Linked DNA regions of Homo sapiens: region 2 is linked to region 1. The links come from fine-mapping of genetic effects on gene expression. A gene starts in region 1. The other region holds a variant in brackets. All regions are shown on one strand. Distances are between the middles of the regions. Region 1 holds the start of SH2D4B (SH2 domain containing 4B). Region 2 overlaps SH2D4B (SH2 domain containing 4B).

The links.
Region 2: its variant is fine-mapped to the expression of SH2D4B in lung (TOPMed, PIP 0.91).

What each region holds. Positions count from the first base shown.
Region 1 is chr10:80,535,815-80,541,036 of GRCh38, reverse strand. SH2D4B (SH2 domain containing 4B) reads right to left here and starts at 3,135. Exons shown (of 8, transcript NM_001388272.1): 1 at 2,522-3,135. The coding sequence starts at 2,705. It overlaps TSPAN14-AS1 (TSPAN14 antisense RNA 1), which reads left to right and starts at 5,095. Exons shown (of 2, transcript NR_120661.1): 1 at 5,095-5,222. RefSeq lists enhancers at 75-254, 1,292-1,431, 4,738-4,837 and a silencer at 4,908-5,097.
Region 2 is chr10:80,622,086-80,627,574 of GRCh38, reverse strand. All of the region lies in intron 6 of SH2D4B (SH2 domain containing 4B), which reads right to left. Among named protein-coding and RNA genes, the nearest start is that of LINC02655, 25 kb to the left of the region's middle. The variant A/G (reference allele first, on the strand shown) is at 3,099.

The sequences.
Region 1 (5,222 bases):
CTCACTAACAGTTTCTTGCCTTTCCTATCATTCTGACTCATTCCCGAGTTCTTTCTCAAGACAGTTTCAAGAGCCTGGACATCAACTGGGGCTGGGGTCTCACCAGCATCTGGAGAGCCTCCTGAGTCCTCTGGCAACATCAAGGGAAGGAAGAGAAGATTCCTCCGTGGAGCCCGTCCCCGCACAATTCCCGCCCTGGGACACGGCACGGCTGCTTTGAACCAAGCCTCACCCTTGGCACTCGAGTTGGCTGTGTTCCCTATGATCCATCTACCCACCGTCTCCAGGACAAGCACTGCCCCATTCACTGAAATCAGCACATAGTAATGCTGGATAAGTGAATGAATTGGTGAATGAGTGAACAAGTGAATGTGTGCACAGCTCACTTGTTTAATTGGAGTTCCGAGTTTGGAAGTGAATGAACAGAAAAAAAATCAGTCACCAGACCCCAGATCCAAGTCATGAGATGTAGCAGCTGGATGACCTTGGATGTAGCGCATCACTTCTCTGAGCCTCACCTTCCTTATCTGCAATGAAATCAGGGAGCTTGCCCTGCCACCCCGCAGGGACACGGGAGCAGCAAGGGCTGGGTAGGCACCCAGTCAACGTAAAGCTCACAAGTTGTTGCCACCCTTCATCACGACCCCAGGACATGAAGCAGATACTGTATATCCTGGACCCTCCGGCCGAAAGCTCTTCCGGCTCCTGGGCAGGGCCAGCCCCCAGGCTCCCCAGTGGCATGCCCAGACAGTTCCAAAAGGCAGGACCGAAGCAAAGAGCCAGGATCCAAGCGGGATCCTGACCTGGGATACACACATTCCTCGGCGTGCTTTCCTGCTTTTCCATTCTTTATAAATCAGAAAATTAATTACCAGAAAAAGGATCTTCTGCACCAGAAACTCAAATGAGTTTAATGTATAATTTATACATGAAAATGTAGATGTCTATGTGTGACAAATCTCTGTATAAATATTTTTGCAGTTAAATTTTTAGGCATCTGTCTCCCTCCAAGAAGAGTCATCATGCAGGCATCATGAGTCCCCAGGGCTCAGGCCGGGTGGTGCTGGCAAGGTGGCTTGTCATTTCACCAGTTAGTGATGCAGCTGCCAGCGCAGCCCAGCCCGGAAGGCCCCAGCTTTGGCAGCAGCCACCTGCAGCCAAGTCACAGCTCTGCCCCAACCTCCCCGGCAGGGTCCTGCTGTGTCTTGTTCAAAACAAGGATTTAACACCATGTGCCACCTCTGTGCTGGGCCCAGGGGAGGAAGATAGAGTGGAGGAAGCCCTCACACACCAGTGCCTTTGAGCCCATCGGAGAGCCAGGCAAGCAGATGAGGAATGACAATGACAGGGTGGCAAATGCCAGGGCAGGCGTGGGTCCTACATGCCAGGCAGCCACAGAGGAGCAAGTACTGCCCTATGCAAGAGCATCCCTGAACACTCCAGGGCAGGGGGGCCACTCCTGATGGAGTCTGTCAGGTGGATGAAGGCAGAAGGACATTCCCAACGGTGAGAGCCACTCATGTGAAGACCAGAGACAAGAGCAAGCATGTCCAGATGATGTGGGTGTGGCCTGTGGCACCTGGTGGGGACTGGCCAGCAGTGAGCCTGGCATGGAGAAGAGCCAGATCACCAAGGGAGCTGTGTGCTCAGCCCTGAAACAGGACTTTGTTCTGGATTGAAAACTTCAAAGGGTGAAGGCACATAAGCCTTGCAAACTGTAAAGTGCATGCAGCATCCACAGAAACTACAATCCCTGGCAGGATTGAGTCCTGTGCCAAGCCAAGCCTCAGCAGCCTGCCAGTTTCTGGCCCAGGGGTCCTGGATGATTTCCTTCACCCACAGGTGTACCAGTCCATAGGATTGACTGGCACATGACTTTGCATACAAAACACCTGAAATGTAGGCTAGGCCCTTGCTTCTCATCTGCAGTTGCTACGACCATTTGGGGATGGTCATTCATTGTGTGGGACGTTCCCTGATGCCCTCTCTCCGGATGCCCAGTGGGGCTCCAGAGACAACCCACAGCATCCTCCTGCCGGAGGATCTGGAGGGAGAGGCACAGTCCACAGAAGGGGCCCTAGCCAAGAACTGGTGTGCCACGCATGCCAAGGAGAAAGGAACTGCATATCTACACCACACTCTGGCCCAGAACCAATGGCAAGGGTCACAAATATGCCGTCGTTCACCCTACCATTGCCAACCACGTCGGAGCACAATCTGAAGTCTCAATGGTGTCTTCCCAGAACTCGGGCCTTCCACAACAAGACAAAGCAAGTCCCAACTCCCCGACTCCAATAAGGGCCGCTGGACAGCCTCTGCAGCAGCCTCGAAGCCCTAAGGTCCTGGCCAAAAGGCAAAAGCACAGGCTCATGGGACCTGATGCCCACAAGACAAGGGTTTCAAGCCCCCAGCCCTCATCACCCCAGTGCCCATCTTGAAGAAGGGCACAGCCTGGCCCTGCTAATTTTTCTACCTCCTGGGGGACTGGTGGCCTACCTCTCTGTGACTCCCAGCCACGTACCTCGCTTGGTCTTTGGAGGCCTGAGACCCTCGTCCTGGGCCAGGGCCTCCCAAGTCTCCCGCTCCTTCCAGCGCCTCAGCTGCTCCTCCCGCATTTTGTAGAAGAGGATGTGCTTCTGCACATCGCTGAGCTCGGCAAGGAGCTCGGGGTCGATGTACATGTCGTGCAGGATCTGCTGCAGCATGATGCCACCTGGGATGCACGCACCAGAAGGGCAGCCAGCAGGGGAAGCAGGGCCAGGCAGAACGCCCGAGGGGCTGCTCTGCACTACGGACTGCTCAATCCGGGGCCACTCTCGGTGCCCCTTCTCTGTGCAGCATTGTCAGTTGGCCTCAGCTTGCAGCCAGCGACGAACTCATCTCCTCTACCCAGGACAGCAAAAGAGGCCAGGCAACAGGACCCAAAGGGGCAGGTGGGACTCTGCAAGGGGGAGCAACCACCAGGAGCAATCTAGTCCTTCTCCTGGGTCACCAAGCACGGCATCCCAGGAGAGCCCATGTCTTGGCATCACCTGGGGTTCTGAGACAATGGGAAGGGCCCAAGCCTCCAGCTCAGCCAGGAAATGCCCAGTCCCAGCCCTGCCTGGGCTGGTAGGTGTCGAGTGATCTGTTAGTGGAAGGTAACAATGACACCAGCTATATCAATGACACTGCCCCGGCCAGCTGGGAACTGATCTCTCCTCTGCAGATAAGAGGAGGAGAAGGAGGCAGACTTGCCTACTAAATTCCATGTCTTTTCAGCCAATTTCAAACACAGACCAGAGGAGCCTGCCAGAAGCTGCTGGGCCCCTCAGCCCTCTCAGCCCCTCTCTCTGCGGGTTCCTTCGCTGCCAACTTTCTTCCTTTCCAGAACATTTGGCATTCTGAGATGATGCGTTTAAAACTCTGCCTTGGGGGAGGAAAGATTTTTCCTCCTATCTGTGTTACAGCCAAGAAAGAAAACAAAATGGAATCAGTAGAGACAACTGGAGGGGATTTTATCTTGGAATTCCAGGACAGAAAGGAAGCAGACATCCTTTCCCTTTGGCCTATATATAATGAGATCCTGCAGCCATGCGTGGCTGACAGATAAACCCTCCAGGGGCCAGTTTTAATGGTCGTTGTTAATCTTGTTTGTTGCAGATGCCTGGAGTTGACCAAAAAGAAAGAAGATGAAACTGGCTCTTCTCTGTGCCCTGATCAGAAGCACACTGGAATGGCGGGATGTTGCCTTCTGCTGGGAGGGAAGCCACCCTCTCTTTGGTGTGTGAAGGTGGGTAGAAGCTGCCGTTGCTGAGATCTTTAGGGTGAAAGCTCACCCTAAATATGTGCTCAGAGCAAATCACAGATGCCTTCTTATTGGGACAAGGATATTGAAGCTCAGAGAAAGTAAGTGGCTTGCCTATGGCTTCCTAATGGACAAGTCACTGTATTGGGACTCCCCCGTTTTGAAATTTGACATCCACTAGCAACTATGAATCTGTTGATGGTTTGAAAACATAACCCAACCAAGGGAAAACAAACGAACCAACAGGATTTGGCACTGTGGCTTGGTTGGATTGGTGACCTTCCTGTCCCCTTCCTTGCCCATGAGGGTGGAAGGTGGATCAGGTACCCAAGAGTGATGGAAGAGGGGTGGAGAGTTGGCATTCTTCCCCCTCTGCAAGGTTAACACAACAGGAAGATGGACTAAGCAGATTCAGATGAGCTGTAAGCCCATAGGGTCAAAGCTCCTGCTCAGCTAGGCAATGTCCAGGTCACAGGAGTGGAGTCAGACGCCCCACCCCTCCCCACCCAGGTCCAGCTAGCTGGTCCCAGTGTGCCCAGACCTTCCTAGAGCCGCCACAGGACTCGCCTGTCCGCTGCAGAGCTGTGGCCCTGGACTCCCATCCACCCACCTCAGGGCTTGCACCGACTCCCCCACCGGGAGTCCTGGCTCCCCTCAGTTTCTGAGACCGGGGGTCTTCCCTAGCCTCTGCCCAGCTATTCTCTTTCTCCCCCTCGCCGTGGCTGGTGGGAGACCCCCGAGTCCAAAGAGGAGACAAGGGGAGGAAGGCCCCCAGGGTCTGGGCTCCTGCGGGCAGCTTCTTTTTGTCTTTCCCGGGCCGCCAGATACCTACGACCACAAGAGGGCACGGGGCAGGGACAACGCTGTAGGGAGCAGCAGGAATGGGCCGGCTGGAGGCGGGCGAGAACGGTGATGGTGCCACCCTGGAGGACCGTCGGGAGAGTGAGGCAGCCGGACTAGAATGACCCCCGCTAGCGCCCATTTTGTGCGATAGAGGGGATCTCGCTGGGGGCGGGGTGATCCCTGGCACTCCCAGGTCAGCGGGGCAGGAGGCCAAGAGACACCGAATCGCGGGGACGTGAGCGTCACCCAGCCGCGGATGGCAGCCCGGGAGCGGGTGAAGTCCGGTTTCCGGGAAGACGTGCTTCGGGGCCCGCCTATCAATTCTCCTGGGCCTGGCGGGGTGGAGGGCGGGGGACTCGGCCAGGCCTGGGGCGCTCCCTGGCGGCCGCACGGGGAGGCACTCGGCTTCGCAACCTGGGTGTGCCTGGCCTGGGTGTGCGGGAGGACCCCAGAGGACCCCAGAGGACCCCAGGAGCAGGGGTCGCGCCGAAGAGCAGAGTCCGCGGCTGGAAACCAGGCAGGGGAGCCACGGAGTAGTCACACAGGTTTTCTGCCGCCTTTCAACTGGTCTTATTTTGCTTTCATTTTTCAC
Region 2 (5,489 bases), 86 kb before region 1:
GTGGCTGCACCTAAGGGAGGCACCCCACCCAGTTCTGGAGCCCAGCGGCGGAAGTGATGTTTAGACTGAGTCCAGAAAGGGACAAGAGGGGGCAAGGCAAGGAGGGAAGATTGCAAAAGTCATTAGCAAGTGGCTCTTTGTGGCTGGAGGGAGGGCTAAGCTGGGAGCTGGGCAATGGCCAGAGGTGTACGATAGGCAGCAGTCAAGCTCCAAAGGGCTCTCCATACCACTGAAAGGATTAATTCTGAGGGCAGCGGACAGCCACTGATGTTTCCTATACAGAAGAAAGATATAAGAATGTTCAAGTGTGGAAAATGGATTGAAGGATTACGGTTCAGAGCCAAGGATTTCAGCTCAGTGAGGGCTTCCTCACTTAAGAATTGCTTCATGGCTACATTTCACAGTGTACCATTGATATCTGGCTCTCTGACCCCTACCCTCCCAGAAATGGCTTCCATTTTGACGCACAGAGGTTAAACGACACACTCAGGCTCCTGTGAGACGCTTATGTCACAGCCAGCATTAGGCACGATCTGGGGCCTCTGTGACCCTTCTCCTTTGGTCTTCCTATCAACCCTGTTATAACCAGTTCACAACTGAGGACACTGAATGTCAGGAAAAGAAGGGATTCACCCAAAGTCACAGGGCTTAATAGTCACAGAGAATCTATTAAGTGGTGGAGGCAGATCTGAACTCAGGTCCTCGGACTCCAAGTCCAGTGCTCTCTCTGTTCTATACCATGTTGTCTCATGCAAAGGATGGTAAATGCTGTGAAATAAACAAGAAGGAAGAGGTTGAGAAATCAGGGAAGGCTCTGTGGAGGCACTGAATGGGAATGTGAGGTGGGCCTTGAAGGCCAGATAGATTCTGTGTAAGCAGTGAGGGGTAGTAATGAGGTGTGAGGGAGAGAAGGGACAAGATGAGTGAAAAGTCAGAATGAAGACCAGGCATGACACACCCATGGGGCATTTATATAAATCTAACATGAGAGAAGCTTAATCTAAATCTCAGGAGGTTAAGACACATGGCAGATGGAATGGGAAGTCTAACATATATAGAATCCGAGTCCCACAGGAGAGGAGAGGAGGCAATATTTTAAGAGTGAATAGTTAACAATTATCACAGACACATACTATAAAACTATGCAAAGATATTCCATTCTTCTTTTGTCAACCAGACAGAAAATGCAAATCACTACAAAGAATAAATAATTAGCCTTACAGCAGACTTCTCAGTTGCAACCATAAAAGCCAGAGAACAATGGAATAAAAGTTTCAAGTATGCTGAGAGAAAAATAACTGTGTTTAACGAAACTACCTTTCAAGGAAAAGAATAAAATAAAAAATCTTCAGAAAATAATTTGAGCTGGTTGATTTCTAAAGGAAATTCTAAAGGATGTACTTCAGGAAGAAAAAAAAAAATTATCCTGGATAGAAAATCAGAGATACCGGAACAAATGATGAGCACAGATACTGCAGGTCAACCTAAAAAAGTTGACTTACAAGACAATAATAAAAATGGATAATTTGAGGTTTTGAAAAAGATGGAACTATAATACTAGACAATATCTTAGCAGTAGGGAGTAGGAGTTTCAAAATTTTGTTTAGGGTGAGAGTAAAGATATATAGAGTCAGCCTTCCCTGTCTGTGGGCTCTGCATCTGCAGATTCAACCAAGTACAGATCAAAAATATTCAAAAACAGGCCAGGCATGGTGGCTCACACATGTAATTCCAGCACTTTGGGAGGCTGAGGTGGGCAGATCACTTGAGGTCAGGAGATTGAGACCAGCCTGGCCAACATGGTGAAACCCTGTCTTTACAAAAAAAATACAAAAATTAGCCAGGCATGGTGTGCAGGCCTGTTGTCCCAGCTACTCAGGAGGCTAAGGCAGGAGAATCGCTTGAACCCGGGAGGTAGAGATTGCAGTGAGCCAAGATCACACCACTGCACCCCAGCCTGGGCGACAGAGTAAGACTCTGTCTCAAAAAAAGAAAAAAAAAGAAAAAGAAAAAAAATTCAAAACCAAAAATGAATAAAAAACAAGAAAACAATTTTAAAAATACAAATAAAAAGAATACATTACAACTATTTACATAGCATTTACATCATATTAGGTATTATAAGTCATCTAGAAATAATTTAAAGTGTAGAAGGATATGCATATGTTTTATGCAAATGTTATGCCATTTTACATAAAGAACTTAAGCATCTGCATATCTTGGTATCCACAGGGGTTCCTGGAACCAATCCCCCAAAGAAACCAAGGGACAGCCGCATTAACTTTAGAATCTGCTAAGTGTACATATTAAATCGTCTAAATTAACCACTGGAAGATAGACATTGAGAGTGGTAAAATCTCCAAATAACAGAGGTGGAAAAATGGAATGAGAAAAAAAAACGTTCTCAATGAAGCATGAGAAAAGCAAATAACTGAAAAATAAATACACTGTGACATTTATATTAGGTTGAAAAGCTCACAATGCTAAACATTTGGAGATTAATATATAGCAATAAATGAAGCAAAGAAATAATGGACAAAATATTCAGCATAGGGATCATATCTGTTAAAAAGAGGTTACAATGGAGAGAAGCACACAGGTGAGGGCTTTAGGATTTGGTGCTGCTCCCACTTAAGCTTTCTTTATGCCCTTCACATATGTATATACATATATGGTAAGTATTCAATATTTAATATTAAAAATATTTTAATATTGTTGTTCTGCAGCTTCTCACACATTACTGCTATGGCATTCATTCAAAATTGATCAATGTCCTTTGGAGGCAGTGCAGGTTACCACCTAGAACAACAGAGTCACTAATCAGTTTTCGATTTCCATGCTGGTTGTCTGTGTCCCTGAAGTATGGTTCTCAGCCTTGGCTGATGCCCAGGTCCCACTTAGAGCGAGTTTGGTTAATTCATCTGGGTTACATCAAGCAGTGGTATGGTTGAAAACATTCTCAGTTGATTCTAACATGTAGCCAGGTTTGAGACTCTGGGCTAGAAAGTCAGTAGTCTTGCAAGCCAGGAATGGCAGAGATATAAAAAGTGACTCTCACATTCTAGAAACTCCCTCTATATTCAGAGCAATACTTAGAG[A/G]TCTGAACATAGAGTTTTATAAACCTATTCTAGAGGGGATTATAGGATAGGTCCTATGAAGGTCCCTGCCAGACAGGAAAGAGAAGGAAAGAGCGTTTTCTAGGCTAGAGCTGGGAAGAGGCAGAGAAGAACTGGAGGAGCTGTCCTTAATCCCTCTTCTGCAACCCACACCCCAGAAGGTCTGAGAAGGTAGCTGAAAGCAGAATGTCCTATACCCTAGTTTCTGTTGGAGAGTCTAGCAATTACCCTGCACCTGCATAATGTAGCCACAGCTAAGCAGAAATGGTATGTGTAGAGAGAGAAGTCTAAAGATGGTGATTCCCAGCCTCACCAAGTTCCAGTGAGGAATGGAGGGGATCCAGGAGTTCTGCCACATTCTAGAGTGGGATTTGGAGCGCACAGGTAGAGCAACCCTAATATACGGCTGGGGGAGTGGAAACTAGATCAGCCTTCCGAGAGCCATCAGCCCCCGTCGTTAAATAAAGTACACATGCACCCTCTAGCCCAACAACTCCACTGCTGAAAGACACTGCACAGGTCCATAAGGATCCAATGCAAGGAACTAAATGATTAATTGTAGACAATCTGGGTTTCCATGACTTGGGGAGTAGATCAGTGAAATTAGGCGGATACACCCAGTGGAGTACTGTACAGCAGTTGGAAATAATACAACAGAGCCACACACAGCATGCATCTAATGGCATGATGCTCAGTGAGCTAAGTAAACACAAATGATATTTAAAGCACCTCACGATTCATGTAAATATAGGTAAGTATGGGGTAAGGGGAGTAGATTCTGGGAAGATGGCTACAGGGGCAGCAACATCATTTTAAAATCTCTCCAAATCTCCAAATAAGAACAGGCAGTGCAACTAAAGAACAAAACCAGAAGTCCATAGACTAGGTTTATAACAAATTAGGTCATGAGATATCCCCACGAGCCTTGCTATGGTCTGTGCCCATAAAAATTCATATGTTGACATTTAGTCACCAACATAATGGTATTAACAGAAGGGGTCTTTAGGAGATAATTAAGTAGTGAGGATGGAGGGCTCATGGATGGAATTAGGCTCCTTATGAAGCAGCAGGTTCATTCTCTTCTACCTTTATGCTGTGAGGGAACACAGCATTCAAGGTGCCATCTTCAAAGCGAGGACTGAGCCCTCACAGACACCAAACCTGCCTATGCCTTGATCTTCGACTTCCCAGCCTCCAGAACTGTAAGGCAATAAATTTCTGTTCTTTATCAATTATCCAGTTTCGGCCAGGCACGGCGGCTCACGCCTGTAATCCCAGCACTCTGGGAGGCCGAGGCAGGCGGATTGCCGGAAGTCAGGAGTTCGAGACAATCCTGGCCAACATGGCAAAACGCCGTCTCTACTAAAAATACAAAAATTAGCCAGGTGTGGTGGCACACGCCTGTAATCCCAGCTACTCGGGAGGCTGAAGCAGGAGAATCGCTTGAACCCGGGAGAGGAGGTTGCAGTGAGCTGAGATCACGCCACTGCACTCCAACCTGGGTGACAGAGTGAGACTCCATCTCAATAAATAAATAAACAAAACAAACAAAATTATCCAGTCTCAGGTATTCTGCTATAACAGCTCAAATGGGCCGAGAAAACCCCAAATACAAATGGTGGTAGGAATAAACCACTAACACAAGACCTTCATGATACCAATGTCTATACAGGAGAAAGAAGAAATAAACAACAAGGGTGGCTAATGGATCCAAGAGCAGTCAACAGAATTCACTGGAAAGCAGGAGACCAACTGAGAGTGGCAGCTGAAAATAGGGAGAGTTCTGCCCTCCCCAACCCTGGGTGAGTGCAAGGAGCCCACCATGAGACCCTCCAGGGCCACCTGCCACCACTGTGAGTGAAATCAAAATTGAGCAAAATACAGGCAAATAGAGGAAAGAAAGAGAAAGTATAGACCCATGGGGAAGGGACAGAGCCTGGAGACTTCAGAAAGCAAGCTGCCCTGTTTGGGAACACTACACAAAAACTACACAAGCAGCAGCTCCGTGGAGTTAGAAATACTTTCCTGGCCCTCGTTTAACTGCAAAAATTCAGGAAAACTAATTTCATGTAAAACTTAGCCACAGAAAATCATCGAGGTCAAATCACATATAACATCATCATGTGAAAAAGTAAGGAGCAGAACAACTTCCCTATAAGGTGATATATACACAATGTATACATAAGAACCCTTTCAACAGATACATGTGAAGCCTATCAGAATGGCTGCTTATTGGAGAGGAAAGGGAATGAAAATGAAGGAGAATAAGTAAATTAATAAGAAATAGCCTGTGTCTTCTGATGATAATAAGCCATGGGGGTGGGCAGGGGAGGGATGGCTGATGAACTCAACTCTCAGCACTTAGGACTTCTT